Linked DNA regions of Homo sapiens: region 2 is linked to region 1. A link means that fine-mapping ties the variant in region 1 to the expression of a gene that starts in the linked region. Tissue or cell type: spinal cord. Region 1 holds a variant in brackets; the other region holds the start of a gene. All regions are shown on one strand. Distances are between the middles of the regions.

Evidence for each region. PIP is the estimated chance that this variant, and not a neighbour inherited with it, causes the effect.
Region 2: it holds the start of LINC01203, and the variant in region 1 is the best candidate, but not a certain one, in a credible set for the expression of LINC01203 in spinal cord (GTEx, PIP 0.60).

The regions. Positions count from the first base shown.
Region 1 is chrX:12,818,225-12,820,916 of GRCh38, reverse strand. PRPS2 (phosphoribosyl pyrophosphate synthetase 2) reads right to left here. Exons shown (of 7, transcript NM_002765.5): 5 at 1,237-1,410; 6 at 114-273. Among named protein-coding and RNA genes, the nearest start is that of PRPS2, 28 kb to the right of the region's middle. RefSeq lists an enhancer at 1-1,110. The variant G/A (reference allele first, on the strand shown) is at 1,084.
Region 2 is chrX:13,334,092-13,336,783 of GRCh38, reverse strand. LINC01203 (long intergenic non-protein coding RNA 1203) reads right to left here and starts at 1,543. Exons shown (of 7, transcript NR_045260.1): 1 at 1,472-1,543; 2 at 1,239-1,302; 3 at 1,087-1,125; 4 at 324-405.

The DNA of each region.
Region 1 (2,692 bases):
CTGCCAAGCATGTGCCTTAGCAAGGAGCCACACACACACAAGACATGATGCTATTTTTAAGGATCTAAAGTAGGTGCCTGGCTGCTTGGCTGCCTTTGGTGTATAGACAGTACCTGAATCTTGGTGCAGTGTTTCATTTTGTCCTCTTGCGGAATTGTGTTTGTGACGACAACAGCCTCAAAGGCGGCATTATTTATTCTGGAAATAGCTGGTCCAGAGAAGATCCCATGGGTAAGGATAGCATACACTTTGGTGGCTCCAGCTGACAGCAGCCTGTAGAACAGCAGAAGATAAAAATTAAGGGTATGCAAATATTCTTGGAATACTCTCCCCTAGTATGAATGGTAAAAGCACAAAGTGTGCTCCGTAAAAGAAAAATGCAACAAATTTCACTCACATTTATTAACCTAAGATAGGATCACTCAAGCATGAGCAAAACACTTTGTATTCCATTAAATCGGGGACTATCAACCTTGGCACTTGAGCCAGGATAATTCTTTGTCACGGGGGCTGTCCTACGCATTATGGGAAAATTCAACAGCATCCCTGGCCTCTACCCACTAACGACAACCCACCCCTCAGCCGTGACAACAAAAAATGTCTCTAGACATTGCCACATGTCTCCCAGGGAGCAAAATCACTCCTGGTTGAGAACCACCTGTTTAAACCAATATAGCCAAACATCATTGTTTTGATGTGTAATCAACATAAAAACATATATGTAAATGAGATATATATTCATTGTTTCATATTAAGTCTCCAAAACCTAGTGGCCTTTTTATACTCTCAGCACATCTCAAGTCAGACTGGCCATATTCCAAGAGCTCCACGGCCACGTGTGGCTGGGTGGGGGCTTCCATACTGGGCAGCAGCTCTACAAATCCTCCAGACACCCATGTGGCTGAGAAGGCTGGCACGAAAGCCAAATGGAAGGAAGCTAGGGCCTGAAGAAGCCCGAAAAACCATCTTTCCTGTCGTGCTCAGTGCAAAGGGAAGCACCTTCTTTGACCTTTTTCCAGGTACACTACAAGCTCACCCTGGAAAACGAAAAGGCCCGTGCTTTCTTTTCTACCAGAGAAAGAA[G/A]TATAAAGATAAAAGGGCCTAGAATCTCCTTTGGTCTAAAACTCCACTGCCAAGACCGGCAATAATCAGGAAAAAAGAGCCCAATTTCTAAAAGCTGATGTGTTTCCCTTTCCTAGTGAGAAGTCCTAACGCTTTCCCCACCGCCCTGCGTACTTGTCCGCAGCATGGCAGATGGTGCCGCAAGTGTCAGCCATGTCATCCACGAGGATGGCCACACGGTCCTTCACGTCGCCCACCAGGACCATCCGGTCCACTTCATTCGCCTTCTTCCTCTCTTTGTGGATCAAAGCAAATTCCACATTCAACCTGTCTGCAATTGATGTAACCCTGGCAAAGGCACAAATGAACATGTTCATACAGTCAACTAGAGATCTCGCCTTTAAAGTTGTATTTTGGGAATGTAGCAGGCAACCACACCCGAGAGATGATGCAAGAATCAGGCCTCTCTTGATCAGCCCAGGCATGGTCTGGGGCAGGCACTTAGCAATCCACAGGGAGAAATGTGCTAATGGCGGACCTTGCAATTGGGGCAGCTAGGAATGACCGTCAGGGCACCCTGGCCACTGGATAGAACTACTGGGTAAGAATTTGATATTCAGTTTGTTAGTATTTGTGGGTAGCATTTTAAAACCATGACAGGTACAACTTAAAGTAAGTTATTTAGGAACTACTATTTGCCCAGTTTGTGGCACAGATAGTGGGGACAAAAGTCCTGGTTAATACAGCCATCTAATATGTAGGCTAGTCAGGATGGGCTTCATTGCATTCAAGGTCTAAGGAGACTTTAAACTGTGAGTCCAGCTCCTCTGCTCATCTAAGGCAAATGCTCAGACATCAATGGTGCCAGGCATGGCATCGTGCCTGTAGGCCCAGCTACTCAGGAGTCGCAGGTAGAAGGATGGCTTGCGTCTGAGTTCGAATACAGCCTGGACAACATAGCAAGATCCCATCTCTTTAAAAAAAAAAATCACTAGCTCAGGAGGAGCTGAGCTGCCAACAGGAAGAGAAAGTGGGCAGGCCTCGCTTGCTGGTGAGCCTGGGGCATTTCAGATTTTCCTGTGAAGAGTGGATTTAAATGGTGAAACTTATTTCAAGACAATGCCACAGGTATAATGTAACATTAAGATTTTCCTTTTCCAGTTTTTAAAATAACAGTCATTATGCAATTTAGCTGAAAAAATGCTTTGGGGACCAATACACACATGGCCCAACTTAAGACGCAGTACATGGAGGATATAACCTCCACACACTAGTTTTAAAGTCCTAGTCCTACTCATTGTGTCATCCTCAGATGACGACCAGGAATGGAGCTCCTCGCGTGCTCTGATGAAGGACAGAGGGGACACTCTCTGGGGCTGAGAAGGCAGTGGGAAGGGCAGTTAGGTGCTCCAGGCTCCCCTCCCTATTTCTGAGGATTTTCACAACACAACCAGTGTTTCTTTTCTTTTCTTTTTTTTTTTTTTTTTTGAGACAGTTTCACTCTTGTTGACCAGGCTGGAGTGCAATGGCACAATCTCGGCTCACTGCAACCTCTGCCTCCTGGGTTCAAGTGATTCTCCTGCCTCGGCCTCCTGAGTAGCTGGGGTGATAGGCATGCACCACCACTCCT
Region 2 (2,692 bases), 520 kb before region 1:
TTCTTGAATCTTTTGGGGCCCACAAAAGCTAGATAAGGGCAGAACTACAAAGTCAAACTATAGGAAGAGGCACCGTCTACTCTTTGACAGATACCTCCAAAAATCCCATGGCCAATAATGTGGTGATGAGCAATATGATAAAATAGCAAGATACCTGCATATATGTCTATCAGTACAAGTGTTAAATACACATTATCTCAAAAGAAAAATACATTAAAAACTCATGGTTCCTGTTAGTAGTAGGGATAATTTAATTTTTAAACTGCATACATGCCATAAACAAGGTTTATGTAACGGCCTTGAAAACACCATTCATTACTTACATGACTGAAAAGACGAAGGCATCTAATGAGTTAGAGTCACACCATCTCATGCCTGTATACTATCAAACAACTTTTGGGAAGCCTGAAAAAGACAAACACAGTAACACTGTGTTAGAGGGACCATACTTGCTTACCTAAAAATCTGAAGAACAGGTGGTCTGTAGTGTGGTAAGACCCAATTTATCACTGACCTGGTTACTACCAAGAACACATAAATGACCACTGTTAGGTTCACTATGATTTCATGACTATGGGTACCTGAAGAAACACATTCAATGATGAATGTGTTTAATGAAACACGCTGTTTTACCTGCAAAAAAGGACGGGGCACCTGCAACTTGTATCAGTCATTTTCCTCATTAGAGGAACCACCAACACTACCTCGATCTTAGTAGAACTTTGAGATCAACACTAATGTTAGAGATACCATCATCGCTTGACTTAGAAATCTCATTGTTCATACTATAATGTGGAAGAGTAGGATAACTCACCTGGATACCGGCATAGCCCTCCTTAGAGACTAATGTTAAACACACATTATATCTCTTTTATTTTTTTAAGAGACAGGGTTTTGTCCTGTTACCCAAGTTGGAGTGCAGTGGTGTGATCACAGCTCACTTCAGCCTCAACCTCCTGGGCTCAAGTGATCCTCCCGCCTCAGCCTCCAGAGTAGCTCATACTATAGGCACATGCAACTATGCCCAGCTTGGTTAGATACTACACATTATATCTAAACTGTAAAATAATAAGGGCTAATGCTTACTAGCCTTGGTTGGGAAAACATCATTTCTTAACTGAATGCCTGCAAAAAAACCATGGTAACACAAAAGTTAGAAGCACCATCCACACTTAATTATAGATCTGATGATCAGATTGTTTTCTGAGTGCTTGCTTAAGGCCCACGTCATTACTTACCTGGATGCAAGCAAAGTCTCATTCTTGATCATGATGAGGTTTACCATGTCTTCTTGACAGGATCCTAAAAACACATTATGACAAATGTGTGTAGACACAGCTTTTTTCCTTGAACCCCACAATTAAGCTTATTCACTACCATCATTCCAAGAACCATCAAGTATACCTGGAATCTTGCAGTACTGCAAGGTCTATAGCACTGTTACAGATACCATTTTCTCTCTACTACTTACCTGCAAACAAACCCACAATTGCTACTATGACATGCAACTCCATGGTTAATTCCTTGGATAGCAAATAGCTCGCCAATCACAAAGTTAAACATAAATTTTCTCTAAAATATAAAACAGCAGGATAACATGGTTGCTGTAGTTAGTAAAGACTATCATTTCTTACTTGAGTACCTATGGAAAAAAATCACACAGTAAAAAAGTTTAGGTAAATGTATAACACTTACTTAGATATATGAAGATCTGGCCGGGCGTGGTGGTGCACGCCTGTAATTCCAGCACTTTGGGAGGCCAAGGTGGGTGGACTGCTTGAAGCCAGGAGTTCGAGACCAGCTTGGCCAACGTGCCAAAACCCCATCTCTCAAAATACAAAAATCAGCAGGATGTGGTGGTGCACACCTGTAATCCCAGCTATTCAGGATGCAGAGGCACGAGAATCGCTTGAACCTGGGAGGTGGAGGCTGCAGTGAGCCGAGATCACCCCACTGCACTCCAGCCTGGGTGACAAAGCGAGACTCTGTCAAAAAAAAAAAAAAAAAAGATATAAGAAGATCTGATGGTCTATGATGTGGTTAAAGAACACATCATCACTTGCCTGCATACCAGAAATGTCTGCCATACCAACCATTGTTAGGTTTATCAGGGTCTCACTACAGAAACCTGAAATACACATTGTGAAATATGTGTTAAAGGACACAAACATTTCCACCAAGACATCTGAAAATAACCTTCGTCACTCCATCATTACAGAACACATAAACTCTACCTGGATACTTGTAATAATGCAAGATCAATACCACTGTCAGGTAAGACGGTCATTTCTTGACAGGACACCTGTAAAAATCCCCTGGTTACTGCTGTGGTAAGAAACACCAATAACCAGGATAGGCACTATCACTCAAAACTCAGAGGTTAATCATAAAGTTATTCTAAAATATAAAAAGTGAGAAAAATAATGTTTTTTTAAATTGGTAAGAGCTCTATCATTTCTTACTTGAACAGCTACAACAAAATCATAGTAACAGAAGTGTTAGGGACACCACCACTTACCTATATAAGGGAAGATCAGATGGGCTGGGCTGTGTTTTAGGCCCACATTATCATGCACATCCATACGAGCAATGACCCCTGTTAACTATTACTGATAGGCTCACTGTGACCTCTTCAAATGAACCTAAAAAATATACTGTTGAAAATGTGTTTCCTAAATGTCTCATTCTACCT